Linked DNA regions of Homo sapiens: region 1 is linked to region 2. A link means that fine-mapping ties the variant in region 2 to the expression of a gene that starts in the linked region. Tissue or cell type: whole blood. Region 2 holds a variant in brackets; the other region holds the start of a gene. All regions are shown on one strand. Distances are between the middles of the regions.

Region 1 (8,000 bases), 24 kb before region 2:
TTCATGCTATTTAGCCTCAAAGTATTTAGCTGCTTGAGATATTCAAGATTAGACCTATAGTCAATCAAAATGAAATAAAATCTATTTCTTGGTTTATTTATTTATTTATTTTTTTTTTATTTTATTTATTTATTTATTTTTTTGAGATGGAGTCTCGCCCTGTCGCCCAGGCTGGAGTGCAGTGGCACGATCTGGGCTCACTGCAAGCTCCGTGTCCCGGGTTCACGCCATTCTCCTGCCTCAGCCTCCAGAGTAGCTGGGACTACAGGCACCTGCCACAACGCCTTGCTAATTTTTTTTTGTATTTTTAGTAGAGATGGGGTTTCACCATGTTAGCCAGGATGGTCTCGATCTCCTGACCTTGTGATCCTCCCACCTCAGCCTCCCAAAGTGCTGGGATTATAGGCATGAGCCACTGCACCCGGCCTATTTCTTGGTTTAGAATGAGATGCTTAGGATGTGATGAAACAGATTATTAATACTGCTTAGGATGGATGAAACATATTATTAATATTATTAATACTGCTAAAGTGTTGCTGTCTTGTCGGGGTCATCTCTGATTTAGTTTGAGATGGTTTTATGGAATAGAAAAAGCTTTTGTTGCATTTGAAAGATTACAGGGCTACAATGGATAAAGCAATATGATACATGTTATAAAGCAAATGAAAATTATACCAAAAGAGTATTACACCTTTGGCTAGCTTAGATAGTATGTATATCTGGTTAACTATATAATTTGACTTAGCTTACTACGATGATTTTATACCACACAAAAATGCATGCAGTAACATGAATTCTTTTTTTTTTTTTTTTTGAGACAGTCTAGTTTTGTTGCTCAGGCTGGAGTGCACAGGTGCAAACATGGCTGACTGCAACCTCGACCTCCCAGGCTCAAGCAATCCTCCCATCCCAGCCTCCCAAGTAGTTAGAACCACAGGCACATGCCACCACACCCAGCTAATTTTTGTATTTTTTGTAGAGACAGGGTCTGGGCATCTTGTCCAGGTCATCTTGAACTCTTGGGCTCAAGCGATCCTCCTGCCTCAGCCTCCCTAAGTGCTGAGATTACAGGTGTGAGCCACTGTTCCCAGCCATGAATTTTTTAAACGCCTGAGTAAAGTTGAGCATAGCCTTCAGTAGCAGAATTCTGAAGTGGTTGACTTTGTTTAACTGTGGGCTGGCAAAACTAATGTTGAGACTCTTTTAGCTCAGTAAAGACTCTTATGTTACTGGCATAAAAGCCTGAAATAGTGAGCTAATTACTGTGCTGGGAAACTAAATATGTCACTTTCAGAGGAAGTAATGTCTCTGCCTACAGAATGTCCAAAACGTAGACTAGTGAGTAGCATTTAGTTAAATGAAATATGGCCCAGTTAAATGTCACACTGCAATGTTAAACAGAGTACCACATGTAAACAAGGAGATTACTTGGTTAGATGGTGACTTTCAAAGTGTTAGGAGGGGATCAGCAGTCCGATTTTTATGGTGTGACACTCTCACATTCAGCCAATTTCTGCCAAAGTGGGGCAAGGAGGGATCCCACAGATGTCACAGGTAAGATAACTCTCAGATGACCGTCAGTATTTGGGAACACATTTTGCAGGCAGCTCATGCGTTTTTCTCCTTTTCTGTCATGACTTGCCCTGTGGTGGCTCTACTGATGGTCAGTGTGGGAGGCAGGGAAGGAACATTTCAAACCAGTAAGTCTGATCATAGCAATTCCTACTTTCTTGAGAACTATGTGCCAAGCATTGAGCTAAGTATTTCATGCTCATCGTCTCATTTAATCCTCACTCACGAGGAAGATGTATGGTGTCACTGCACCTGTAAGATGTGCTTGCAAAAACAGAGTTAGGGAGGTTGAGAAATTTGCTCAAGATTACACAACTGAGGCAGGAGAATGGGGAACATGAGGCGTGAGAGAGCAAAGGGAATAAAAATCACTGGGAACCGGTAACCCCCCTCACCCCCGAGAGTGGCCAGGGAGAGAGAGGCTGCCTGAGGGAAGGAAGCTCGGCAGGACCCGCTGCAGACCCAGGGCCAAGGGAAGTCCCGCGGGAGGAAACGCGGGCGCGGTGGGGCTGGCTCCAGGCACGCGGGCCAAGGGCGGGAGGGTCGGACACGAAGCCACAAGGCTCCTTTCCTTCCTCCTCCTTCCCGTCTGCCTTCTTCTGCTTCTGCGGCCTGATCTCCGAGTCCCTCTGCCTGCAGGCGGCGGCAGAACGTCCGCATCTGTCCGCATCTCAGCGCTGTCCCCCAACCGAGTCGCGCCGCGTTTTCCTCTTCTGTCGGGAGAGCTCGTGCTGGGAACCGCGGGGCAGGAGGACGGCCCAAGCTACTCTCGATGTCCTTCCCCAGCCCACGCCTGCCCCAGCCACAGTTCCCCTGGTTTTCCTGAGGTTCTCCAGCTGCTCAATGATGGGCAGGTTCATCTACAGCCTGGAGCAGCCGCCTCCTCCTCCTCCTCCTCCTCCTCCTCCTCCTCCAGAAACACCCCTTTTTCCTTCTCCTCATTCTTCCTTCTCATTCTTTCTCCTCCTCACTCTTCCTTCTCCTCATTCTTCCGTCTCATTCTTTCTCCTCCTCATTCTTCCTTCTCCTCTTCCTCTTCCCCTTCTCTTTCTGTTCTTTTCTTCTTCCTCCTCCTCCTCCTTTTCTCTTTATTTTTCTCCTCCTCCTCCTCTTCTCCCTCTTCTTTCTCCTTATACTCCTCCTCTCCTCTTACTGTACTTTTTTTTCCTTCTGCTTTCTCTGCCCTCCTCTTCCTCTTCTTCTTCTTCTTCTTCTTTTTTTTTTTTTTTTTGTGGCTGGAGTGCAGTGGCGCAATCTCGGCTCACTGCAACCTCTACTTCCCAGGTTCAAGCGATTCTCCTGCCTCAGCCTCAGTAGCTGGGATTAAAGGGGTCCACCGCCACCATTCCCTGCTAATTTTTGTAATTTTAGTAGAGACAGGTTTTTGCCATGTTGGACAGTCTAGTGTCAAACTCCTGACCTCAGATGATCCATCCACCTCGGCCTCCCAAGTGTTGGGATTACAGGCATGAGTCACCGCGCCTGGTCTCTTTCTCCTTTTTTTTTTTTTAAAGAAAAATTGAAATCATGGTTTTCTAAAAATCCCTCCTAGCTCTCAGCTTCACCGAACCACGTCCTGGTCATTGACTTGCCGTGTGACTGCTGTGCTTCCCCTGTTTCCATTTCCCTCCATTTCTCCCTCCTTCCTCCCTCTGTCACCCATGCCCGGAGGAGCACGATAAGGGACCAGGCCGACCTGGGTTCCAACCCTGCCTGCTCCCTGTCCTGTTGACGCTCTAATTCCACTTGCAGCCCCACTTTCCTCATTTGCATAGTGTTCTCCCAGTAACAACAGCAGTCATACCAAGTTCTAGGGTTCTTTCGAGGATAGTGTGTATTCACCGCAGTGCATCTCTGATGCCTGGCACATCGGCTGTGCTCAAGTAATGGCAGCTATTGCATTACAGTGACTATGGAGTTAGGGGACCGCATATGGCAAAATGCTGATCACTGTTTTGAATTTGGTTTCATTCCTCTAATCTCAAATCCAGTGTTTTAAGGACATGCTAAATGCTTTGTCCTGGAGAGCTATCTTAAGGGACAAAATCGTTTTCCCAGCGTCATCTGTGACACATCCTGACAGTAGAGAGCTGCTTCCAAGAAGCAATTTGAAGTGCCATTATCAGGCAGGGACGGGGGCTCTAGGGGATTTCGGGGTCAGCAGATATGAAATGAATGATTTCATAGGGCTGTCACAGAGCTGTGGTGGGAATTTCCCATGAGACCCCGCCCCTGGCTGAGTCACCGCACTCCTGTGTTTGACCTGAAGTCCTCTCGAGCTGCAGAAGCCTGAAGACCAAGGAGTGGAAAGTTCTCCGGCAGCCCTGAGATCTCAAGGTCTGTCCATCTGGGGGAGTGGGTGGGGGCACTGAGAAGGGGTGAGATTGGAACTTTTGCTCCCTTTGCCCATTTCTAGACTTTTTCTCCTAATATGTAATAACTTCTCTTCAATAGCCCTTTAAATAAACATCAATAACTTAGCCTGAAGAGTTTTTCACTCCTTAGTTTTGTTACCATACAAACTTCACATCTCAAAACATGTCTCTGTTTAAGAAAATGTGTTAGTGAGTTGAACAGGGAGGTCTTTCCACATGTTAGTAGTTAGGTGTTCAGCTAAAGGGGGAAGAGTGATTATGTGATAGCTTCTTCTTGAACTGAATTGTCTGATGCCCCTGACAGATTCTCTTTGTAAGGAGTTTATTTCAGGGGCAATAAGTAATTGGCATTATTGCTGGTTGGTACTGCAAAGTACCTATGAAAGTCCCCAAAAGTTCTTGCTATTGTTATTTCTGCATTTTGGCAGAACATGATGGAAAATGCACCCTCAAACTTTGGCAAACCGGCACAAAGCTGTGTGTTTAATCACGCCTGCCTTGTCCTAGTGGTTTCTATGAATCTGCTACTTTTCCGTAATATTGCATCATTAATTGTTCCTGAAAAACCCTGAGTTATCCTCTTATAGAATTGTATAAGTAATGATTGCAATATAGATAATTTTGAAAGGAGAAACCACCTTTCCTTGGAAATGTTTATCTTTTGCAGAGTGACATTTGTGAGACCAGCTAATTTGATTAAAATTCTCTTGGAATCAGCTTTGCTAGTATCATACCTGTGCCAGATTTCATCATGGGAAACAGCTGTTACAACATAGTAGCCACTCTGTTGCTGGTCCTCAACTTTGAGAGGACAAGATCATTGCAGGATCCTTGTAGTAACTGCCCAGCTGGTGAGTACCCAGTTATCATGTGCATTTGATCTGCTCTGTTGGAAGTATGGTTCAGTTAGTCTAGTAGTCAGGGCTAACGAGCTCCCTTTTAAGGAAAGGAAAATGAAAATTCATTCATTTACAAATGTTTATTGGATGCTACAACCTAGCTGTGTGAACACAGCAAAGTCATTCAACCTCTTGTGCCTTGACTTTCTCATCTGGGGATAATAAGAGAACCTGTTTTATAGGATGGCTGGGAGGATCAAATGAAGGGCTTAGAACAGTGCATGGCACAAGGCAAGACTTCAATAAATGTTAGTTTTGTGTGTAGGGCTTTGTGCTCCGACTGGGGGCATAGCAGCGAGTAAGCGCGTAGTAAAGGGCTTAACAGAGTGGGGACGGTCAGTCGCATTTAAATTTTAGTGTAGGACATTGATGTCCTCCTGGATCCAGTCATATTCATCTCCTACATCAATCAAGATAATCATTTTGTTTTATTCAATAGATAAAGTATTTTCTTTCTGTTGATTTATTTGTTACAATATCTGGTTTTTTTGTTTTTTTTGTGTGTGTATGTTTTTTTTTTTTTTTTTGAGACACAGTCTCACTCTGTCGCCCAGGCTGGAGTGCAGTGGCACGATCTCAGCTCACTGCAACCTTGGCCTCCCAGGTTCAAGCAATTCTCCTGCCTCAGCCTCCCGAGTAGCTGGGATTACAGGTGTGCACCACTGCGCCTGGCTAATTTTTGTATTTTTAGTAGAGACAGGATTTCACCATGTTGGCCAAGCTGGTCTTGAACTGCTGACCTCAGGTGATCTGCCCGCTTCGGCCTCCCAAAGTGCTGTGATTACAGGCGTGAGCCACTGCACCTGGCCTGTATTTTGTTATTTCTAATTCTGTGATTACACAAAGAATAATCTTGCAAATGTATTGTTTTAGGAAGTCAATCAAACTAATGTCCACCACTGTGGCATCTAGAAAACTCATCATTCTTTTATAATCTTATTTTATTGTAAACTTCGGAATGCCTTGGGTGACGATTGCCCATTGTCAAACGTGTACCACTATTGTCTGCCTTTCTTAGGTACATTCTGTGATAATAACAGGAATCAGATTTGCAGTCCCTGTCCTCCAAATAGTTTCTCCAGCGCAGGTGGACAAAGGACCTGTGACATATGCAGGCAGTGTAAAGGTATGAGTTCAAAGATATTTTCTTCTTCTAGAAGATAGTTGGGAAGATAAGCTTTTCTTTCCCATTTACTAACTGCTCTCTTTTGAAAATCTCAAGTGTCAAAGACTGATTCTTCTGCCAACCAGCAGGTCTAGGACAATAATATCCAGTGACAGCAATTATTTGTGGACTGAGCTTTCTAAATATTAGAGGAAACATTCATTTGACAAGAGAGAAGTTTTTACTTACCTAAATGTAAAAATGTCTTTATGGAGATTTAAAAGTAAACTTTAAAATTACTGGGAACACTATAAGTAGAGTGAGCATGATTTTTACTGCAGAGCATAAATTCGCTTCCTGGATTTGGAGGTCAAGTGTAATAAAATGTTGGGGGCTGGGGGGACTTTGTAGGTGTTTTCAGGACCAGGAAGGAGTGTTCCTCCACCAGCAATGCAGAGTGTGACTGCACTCCAGGGTTTCACTGCCTGGGGGCAGGATGCAGCATGTGTGAACAGGATTGTAAACAAGGTCAAGAACTGACAAAAAAAGGTACGTTTGCGTTTCTTTGATCTAGTGTAGTTTTGTGACATAGACAAACTTAGCTTTGATCTTGATCCTTTGAAAATAAACAAACAGATTTGTAGAACCTTAAAGTAACAAGGGAGTATATGATATATCATATTTTAATTAATAAAATATTTCAATTAATAAAATATTTCCGTTATTTCTTCATAAATGGAAATAATTTGAAATCAGAACATTTGTTAATTGCCAGAACCATTAATCTTCACATGTTCCAGACATATACAATACTTTATGTACAATTAAAATAAAAACTAGCCATCTTAGGGTGTTGTTTCAAGAATTATTGAACAATTTGTGCAGATTGCATTATGGTAATGACTTATATTAAGTTCATCACAGGAAAAGTTACAAAATGATGAAAATGCTTCCCTTTTATTATTGCTTTCATTTTTAATACAAGGTTGTAAAGACTGTTGCTTTGGGACATTTAACGATCAGAAACGTGGCATCTGTCGACCCTGGACAAAGTACGTATAATTTCCTTTAGTTTATGGAATAAAGAATCTGGGTTAAATTTTTTGGAAGATAAGGAATGCTATCATTGAAGCTTTTTTGCACCCATCAAGTGTAGACAGAATGTAACATACTAATAGGCAGCGTGGGAACACTGTGAGGTCGTAGCAACTCAATAGGCAAAGTGGGCATTTTCTCCAGAAATAGTGCCTGGAACATCTAGATCAGAATTGCCAGTGGAGGCTGGGCACGTGCAGTGGTTCACGCCTGTAATCCCAGCACTTTGGGAGGCTGAGACAGGAGGACTCCTTGAGCCCAGGAGTTCAAAACCAGCCTGGGTGAGACCCTGTCTCTACAAAAAATCAAAAAATTAGCCAGGCATAATGGCACATGCCTGTGGTCCCAGCTATAGGGAAGGCTGATGAGGCAGGAGGATCACCTGAGTCTGGGAGGTTGAGGCTGCAATGAGCTATGATCGCACCATCGCACTCCAGAGCAGAGAGCCTGTCTCAAAAGAAAGGAAAAGAATTGCCAGTGGAACTTTGCCGCTGTCTGCCTCTTTTCTGTTTCCTTCTCATTCCTTTGCTGCCTCTTATCTTCTCTCATTGATCAGCCTGTCTCCATGTGTTCAATGCCAGCCCCTAGAATGATACAGAAGAAACTAACAATTGCTCGTTACCCTCCAAAATGTGGCACAGACTTGGGCACACAAGGCCATCACAGGTGGTAAAAAGCCAATAGTATACGAGAGAATGTGACTGTTGTTTTGTGGAACCAGAACTTACACTGTGGTCTGTGGATGGGTGCTGGTCCACAAATGGCTTGTCCTGTGTCCCCATCGACAGTGGTGTAGGGTTAGAGAGTAAACATTTAGAAACTTTTAAGGCAAATTGGCAGAGTAATGTGGTCTGTTGACTAAGAATAAAAATTTGGGCGTTGTATTTTATATGTATTTGTTCTTTTTCCGTTTCATTTTCTTACTAGAAAATCATTTTTATTATTTTACTTTTA
Region 2 (8,352 bases):
CACACCTGACTAACTTTTTTGTTTTTTGTTTGGTAAAGATGGCATTTCACCATGTTGTACAGGCTGGTCTCAAACTCCTAGGTTCACTTTGGCCTCCCAAAGTGCTGGGATTACAGACATGAACTGCCAGGCCCGGCCAAAATAATGCACCACTTTTAACAGAACAGACAGATGAGGACAGAGCTGGTGATAAAAAAAAAAAAAAAAAAGCATTTTCTAGATACCACTTAACAGGTTTGAGCTAGTTTTTTTGAAATCCAAAGAAAATTATAGTTTAAATTCAATTACATAGTCCAGTGGTCCAACTATAATTATAATCAAAATCAATGCAGGTTTGTTTTTTGGTGCTAATATGACATATGACAATAAGCCACGAGGTGCAGTAAGTACCCGACTAAAGTTTCCGTGGGTTCTGTCATGTAACACGACATGCTCCACCGTCAGGGGGGAGTATGAGCAGAGTGCCTGAGTTTAGGGTCAAGGACAAAAAACCTCAGGCCTGGAGGAAGTTTTGGAAAGAGTTCAAGTGTCTGTATATCCTATGGTCTTCTCCATCCTCACACCTTCTGCCTTTGTCCTGCTCCCTTTTAAGCCAGGTTACATTCTAAAAATTCTTAACTTTTAACATAATATTTTATACCAAAGCCAATAAATGAACTGCATATGATAGGTATGAAGTACAGTGAGAAAATTAACACCTGTGAGCTCATTGTCCTACCACAGCACTAGAGTGGGGGCCGCCAAACTCCCATGGCCAAACCTGGTGCACCATTTGCCTTTGTTTGTCTGTTGGTTTGCTTGAGACAGTCTTGCTCTGTTGCCCAGGCTGGAATGGAGTGGCTATTCACAGGCACAATCATAGCACACTTTAGCCTTAAACTCCTGGGCTCAAGTGATCCACCCGCCTCAGTCTCCCAAGTAGCTGGGATTACAGGTGCAAACCTGGCATGCCTGCCATTGTTTGGCTTATGATCTAAGGATAGCTTTTTAAATTTTATTCATTTTATTTTTTTTTGAGACAGTGTCTCACTCTGTCTCCCAGGCTGGAGTACAGTGGTACAATCTTGGATCACCGCCTCCCAGTTTCAAGTGATCTCCCTGCCTCAGCCTCCTAAGTAGCTGGGACTACAGGTATGTGCCACCACGCCTGGCTAATTTTTATATTTTTAGTAGAGACGGGGTTTCACCATGTTGTCCAGGCTGGTCTCAAACTCCTGACCTCAGGTGATCTGCCCACCTCTGCCTCCCAAAGTGCTGGGATTACAGGCATGAGCCACCATGCCTGGCCATTTCTTACACTTTTGTATGACATGCCTATTGCAAGCTTGCGTGCCTCTGTCCCATGTTATTTTACTCTGGGATTTAGGTGGAGGGAGCAGCTTCTATTTGGAACATTGGCCATCGCATGGCAAATGGGTATCTGTCACTTCTGCTCCTATTTAGTTGGTTCTACTATAACCTTTAGAGCAAATCCTGCAGCCAAGCCAGGCATCAATAGGGCAGAAAAGTATATTCTGTAAATAGGGGTGAGGAGAAGATATTTCTGAACAATAGTCTACTGCAGTACCAAATTGCTTTTCAAAGTGGCTGTTCTAATGTACTCCCGTCAGTCATATAAGTGTCATGTAAGTATCCCATTGATCCACATCCTTGCTACCCTCTGGTACTATCAGGTGCCCTTAATTTTGCCAAGCCAGTGGGTATAGAATGAGATCTCACTGTGGTCTTAGTTTGCATTTGCTTGGTTACTGATGAGCACCTTGTCAAATATTTATATACCATTTGTGTTTATTTTTTTAAATAAAATGCTTGCTCATGCTTTTTTGCCCATTTGCAAAAAAACTTGGGGCCGGGTGCAGTGGCTCATGCCTGTAGTCCCAGCTCTTTGGGAGGCCAAGGTGGGCAGATCGCTTGAGCCCAGGAGTTCGAGACCAGCCTTGGCAACATGGCGAAACCCTGTCTTTACAAAAAATACAAAAATTAGCCGGGTGTGGTGGTGTGCACCTGAAGTCCCAGCTACTCAGTAGGTTCGCTTTGAGCCTGGGAGGCAGAGGTTGCAGTGAGCTGGGACCGCATCACTACACTTCAGCCTGGGCAACAGAGAAAAACCTTTTCTCAGAAACAAACAAACCCAAATGTGGTTGTTTGTCCTGATTCCTAAAAGGTCTTTATGTATTCTAGATAATAATCTTTGGTCAGTTATATGTGTTAAAAAATATCTTCTTTGTGGCCAGGCACGGTAGCTCACACCTGTAATCCCAGCACTTTGCGGGGCTGAGGTGGGTGGATCATCTGAGGTCAAGAGTTCAAGATCAGCCTGGCCAACACAGTGAAACCCCATCTCTACTAAACATGTACAAAACTTAGCTGGGTATGGTGGCGGGTGCCTGTAACCCCAGCTGCTCCAGAGGCTGTGGCAGAAGAATCGCTTGAACCCAGGAGGCAGAGGTTGCAGCGAGCCAAGATTGTGCCATTGCACTCCAGACTGGGTGACAAGAGTGAAATTCTGCCTATCTATCTATCTATCTATCTATATCTATATATATATATATATATATCCTTTGTAATTTATTTTTCCCTTTTTAAAATTTTTTATAAAATTCTTTTTTATTTTTATTTTTAGCAGAGGTGAGGTTTCTGAGGTTTCATTATGTTGCCCAGGCTGGTCTTGAACTCCTGAGCTCAAGTGATCCTCCCACCTCAGCCTTCCAAAGTGCTGGAATTGCAGACATGAGCCACCGCGCCCCTCCTGTTTTTCTCTAATTAATGGTGTCTTTCTTTGTCTTTCTGGTAATAAGCAAAAAGTTCTTCATTTGATTTGGTTAAATTTATAACTGTTTTCTCATATGGTTAACATTTTTTCTTGCCTGGCTAAAGAAATCCTTTTCTGCCCAATACTATAAAGAGGTTTGCCCACATTTTATTCCAAAAGTTTTAAGTTTTGTCTTTCATCTTGAAGTCTAATGTATCAGGAACTGGCTTTTGTGCCTGTTGGGAGGTAGTGATCCAATTCCATGTCTTGCATGTAGGTAACCACTGGTCCCTGCGCCATGTATTCAATACGTCGTCTTTCTCCTGCGGGTCTGCAATCTCACCTACCATCCATCAAGTTTCCATAGGGCCATGGGTCTGCTTCTGGGCTCCCTGTTCTGTTCCATTGTCAATTTGTCTATCCTGTGCCAGTATCACACTGTGTTTATTACAATAGCTTTGTAACAGCTCTCGATATCCGGTAGGACATCTCCCTCCACCTTCTTTTTCTACTTCAGAAGTGTCTTAGCTAGGTCAGGCACGGTGGCTCACGCCTGTAATCCCAGCACTTTGGGAGGCCGACGCGGATGGATCACCTGAGGTCAGGAGTTTTGAGACAGCCTGGCCAACATGGTGAAACCCCATCTCTACTAAAAAATACAAAAATTAGTCAGGCATGGTGGCATGTGCCTGTAATCCCAGCTATTTGGGAGGCTGAGGCCGGAGAATTGCTTGAACCCGGGGGGCGGAGGTTGCAGTGAGCCGAGATCGTACCATTGCACTCCAGCCTGGGTGACAGAGCGAAACTCTGTCTCAGGAAAAAAAAGAAAAGAGATGTCTTGGTTATTCTTGGTTCTTTATTATTCAATATAAATTTTAGAAGCTGAATTTGAAAAGATTTGGATTGGAATTTCATTAAATCTACAGGTCAATTTAGGGAGAGTTGATAATTTTACAGAATTGAGTCATCTGGTGTTCCAATAAGAATAAGAGAACAATTATTGGCTGTACAATTCTTGCCAAATAGTAGGCAAAGCAAAGCTTAGGAAGTATACTGGTGCCATTTCAGGAACAAAGCTAGGTGCGAATATTTTTGTCTTTCTGAATCATGATGCTGTAAGTTCTAAAGTGATTTCTCCTCTTGGCTTTGGACACATGGTGTTTAATTACCTACTGCTGACTATCCACAAACAGAAAGAGACTGGTCATGCCCCACAGGGTTGGGGTATCCAAGATAATGGAGCGAGGCTCTCATGTGTCCTAGGTTACACACCGAAAATCCACAGTTTATTCTGTGAAGAAAGGAGGCTATGTTTATGATACAGACTGTGATATTTTTATCATAGCCTATTCTGGTATCATGTGCAAAAGCTATAAATGAAAAACACAGGAACTTGGCATGTGAGTCATTGCTCCCCCTAAATGACAATTAATAAGGAAGGAACATTGAGACAGAATAAAATGATCCCCTTCTGGGTTTAATTTAGAAAGTTCCATAATTAGGTTTAATAGAAATAAATGTAAATTTCTATGATTAAAAATAAATTAGCACATTTAGGGATACACAAATTATAAATCATTTTCTAAATGCTAAAAACAAGCTCAGGTTTTTTTCAGAAGAAAGTTTTAATTTTTTTTCTTTAGTGGAAGATATCACTCTGACGGAAAGTTTTGATGTGAGGGGCGGATGACTATAAAGTGGGCATCTTCCCCCACAGGAAGATGTTTCCATCTGTGGGTGAGAGGTGCCCACCGCAGCTAGGGCAGGTTACATGTGCCCTGTGTGTGGTAGGACTTGGAGAGTGATCTTTATCAACGTTTTTATTTAAAAGACTATCTAATAAAACACAAAACTATGATGTTCACAGGAAAAAAAGAATAAGAAAAAAAGACCTTATTTTAAAAAGCTTTTTATAACTGTTGCAACATCATATCATAAAGGGTAATCATGAAATAAGGTGCCATTCTTTGTAAACTTTGGCTTTTAGTGCCGAAGGATGCTAAAGATTTCCAGTATGAGATTCCTTTTGCTTTCAACAATTGACTTATTAGTTACATAAAAATGGATGCTGTTGATCGGGTGCAGTGGCTCACACCTGTAATCCCAGCACTTGGGGAGGCCAAGGGGGGTGGATCACCAGAGGTCAGGAGTTCAAGACCAGCCTGACCAATATGGTGAAACCCTGCCTCTACTAAATAATACAAAAATTAGCCGGGCGTGGTGGCATGCACCTGTAATCCCAGCTACTTGGGAGGCTGAGGCAGGAAAAT[C/G]ACTTGAACTTGGGAGACGGAGGTTGCAGTGAGCCAAGATCCCACCACTGCACTCCAGTCTGGGCGACAGAGCGAGACTCTGTCTCAAAAAAAAAAAAAAAAGAAGAATGCTGTTTTTGGCCAGTCACAGTGGCTCACACCTGTAATCCCAGCACTTTGGGAGGCTGAGGCGGGTGGATCACATGAGGCCAAGAGTTCAAGACCAGCCTGGCCAACATAGTGAAACCTCATCTCTACTAAAAATACAAAAATTAGCCAGGCATGGTGGCACACGCCTGTAATACCAGCTACTCGGGAGGTTGAGGCACAAGAATCACTTAAGCCTGGGAGGTGGAGGTGGCAGTGAGCTGAGATCACACCACTGCACTCCAGCCCGAGAGACAGAGTGAGACTCTGTCTCAGGAAAAAAAAAAAAAAAAAAAAAAAAATGCTGTTTTCCCAGCTTGGGCAACATGGTAAAACCCCATCTCTACCAAAAATACAAAAAATTAGCTAGGCATGGTGGTGCATGCCTGTAGTTCCAGCTACTTGGGGGGCTGAGGTGGGAGGATCATTTGAGCCCAGGAGGTCGAGGCTGCAGTAAGCCATGAATGCACCACTGCCCTTCAACCTGGATGACAAAGTGAGACCTTGTCTCAAAAAAAAGAAAAAACTGTTGTTACATCAATATTGATTCAGATAGCTGTATTTAAAATTCACTAAGCCATTGAAGCCTTTCAAACAACTTTTCCAAATTCATTGAAGAGGCAGATTCTGACACATTCATTGAAGATGCTGACTATTGGATCCAAATGACTCCTTCACTGAACTAGCAGCCATCCAGGTGTCTACTCTGCACCAGGAACCACATCAGGACACAAGCACAAGGATAAAACTCACTTCCCACCTGGAACTTTCATTCTAGGGGAATGACATGTCTAACCTGATAAGATCCACACATCCACATGATAAGGTAAAACTCACTTCCTGCCTGGGAACTTTCATTCGAGGGGAATGACATGTCCAACGTGTTAAGATCCACATTGGGGTACAAGATGCTTTCTCTAAGAGGAATCTTCATTCAACACAACGCCACCAGGCACCAAGCACCATGGATGGACGGCAAAAGGGGAGTGAGAGCAGCTGCCCTCCTGGTGCTCACGGTGGCGGGTGGGGGGGATGTGGGGAAGGGGCAGCTGTGCACCAGGGAGCTCCGCTGGGAGGCAGGGGAGGGAGGGATGGAGTTGGGGGACGGGGAGGGGGAAGGGGGAGGGAAGGGGGCGGGGGAGGGAGGGGGGAGGGGGGAGAGGGAAGGGAGGGAAAGCGGGATGCAGAGGAAGCGATGCCTGTCCAGGCAGTGTGCTTCTCAGAAGGAGCCATGGGCCCAGGCACATGGGAGGGAGAGTTGGGGCTGGGATTGAGGAGAGGGGAAGGAAGCCACAGGGTGAGCAGGGACCAGAGAGCCAGATTTTATAAGTTATATAAGAAACTCAGATTTTGGCCGGGTGCAGTGGCTCACACCTGTAATCCCAGCACTTGGGGAGGCCGAGGCGGGCGGATCACAAGGTCAGGAGATAGAGACCATCCTGGCTAAGACGGTGAAACCCCGTCTCTACTAAAAAATACAAAAAATGAGCCGGGCGTCGTGGCGGAGGCCTGTAGCCCCAGCTATTCGGGAGGCTGAGGCAGGAGAACGGAGTTAACCCGGGAGGCGGAGCTTGTAGTGAGCCGAGATCGCGCCACTGCACTCCAGAAAAAAAAAGAAAAACAAACAAAAAAAAAAACCCTCGGATTTTAGTTAGAAGCAGTGGCTCACCCTGTAATCCCAGCATTTTGGGAAGCCAAAGTAGCAGGATCCCTTGAGGTCTGGAGTTCAAAACCAGCCTGGGCAACATAGTGAGATTCTGTCTCTTAAACAACAACAAAAAAAAAACAAAAAAAAAGCAGCTTTGATTTTAACATGTGGTCACTAGGAAGCCAGTGAAGAGATTTGATTGGATTTGCCTTTTAGAAAGTGCTCCCTGACTGCAGGGAGGGTGTAACTGAAACGCGGGTTAGTCACTCACTTGCAGACTCCGATTAACAAGAGCGAGGTGTGGTATGAAGACAGTGATTTATCCCAAAGCTAGCTTAGGGGAAGAAATACAGGTGTCCTATCTTAAGTGTCCCGCTTCACCTTTGGAGCAGAAAGACGGCACGTTGAAAAGGCAGGGGAGGAAGTGAGCAGGGCCGGGCGTGGTCTGCAGGCTAGATCTAGTGCTTTATCTACTGGGCGGCTGAGCTAGAGACTGCCGGTGCCTTCATGGGCAGGACTAGGCCGAAAACTCCCCAGGTAGGACAGAGTCCCATATCTCTCACGTCTCTTGGTGGGAGGGAGTTCCGAGGCAACCTCCTGGAGGGTGGGAGTTCCGTAGCAGGCATGCATGCTTTGGTTTGTAAATCGACTATTAGCTCTTGAGGAGAGTCTTGGAGCACAGAGTTAGAGGAACTTGCCCTCTATAAAAACAAAAAAAAAAAAAAAGAAAAAGCTATACTTGCATTTTAAAGGGCAAAGTAGGAAGTGGGGAACCAGGGGAATGAGAAAAGGAGAGAGAGAGAGAAAAAAAAAATAAACGATTTCTTAGAAAAATGGGGGTACGTGGTTACAAGTGAATGGAGACAGGAATACTGCAGAGGGGACTGCTGGCTCCTGGCAGGGCAGAGTGAGAAGTCCTGGGATGGAGCTTGGGGAGGGAGGAGAGCTGTTCCAGGGACAGCTCTGGACTCTGTGGGGGCCCCAGTGGAGGGCACATGAGGTCACAGGCAGAGCCAGAGGGATCACCGGAAGTTGGGAGTTCGAGACTAGCCTGGCCAACATGGTGAAACACCGTCTCTACTAAAAATATAAAAAAGTTAGCCGGGCATGGTGACACACACCTGTAGTCCCAACTACTCAGGAGGTTGAGGCAGAAGAATCACTTGAACCTGGGAGGTGGAGGTTGTAGTGAGCTGAGATCATGACACTGCACTCCAGCATGGGCAACAGAGTGAGATTTCATCTCAAAGAAAAACAACAAGAAAAGGGGGATTTGCGTGTTATAAAGTTCCTGCCCAGGTTCCCAATCAGGTCTGTTTATGCAAATGAAAGACTGAAACTTGCTTAGTTTTGATTGGTTTATGCCGCTGAGTCCTCATTAGTCGATACAGCTGAGCCCTGGTTGGTGGAGGCAGGTGAGCTCCAAAAGTCCCAACATTAAGAAGGTGCTGGTTTTCAGGAATCTCAGAGTACCTGTGTGACTTCTAGTTAGCAAATGGCTAACTATTTTAGCCATTTGGCTCTATTTTAAATTTAGGCTCAGTTAGCCACTAGGG

Evidence for each region. PIP is the estimated chance that this variant, and not a neighbour inherited with it, causes the effect.
Region 1: TNFRSF9 starts here. The variant in region 2 is fine-mapped to the expression of TNFRSF9 in whole blood (TOPMed, PIP above 0.99).

The regions. Positions count from the first base shown.
Region 1 is chr1:7,936,693-7,944,692 of GRCh38, reverse strand. It overlaps TNFRSF9 (TNF receptor superfamily member 9), which reads left to right and starts at 3,854. Exons shown (of 8, transcript NM_001561.6): 1 at 3,854-3,909; 2 at 4,615-4,798; 3 at 5,865-5,972; 4 at 6,363-6,500; 5 at 6,937-7,003. The coding sequence starts at 4,699. RefSeq lists a silencer at 2,011-2,150.
Region 2 is chr1:7,912,162-7,920,513 of GRCh38, reverse strand. TNFRSF9 (TNF receptor superfamily member 9) reads left to right here. Exons shown (of 8, transcript NM_001561.6): 8 at 1-4,643. It also overlaps a transcript of UTS2 not described here. Among named protein-coding and RNA genes, the nearest start is that of TNFRSF9, 25 kb to the left of the region's middle. The variant C/G (reference allele first, on the strand shown) is at 5,023.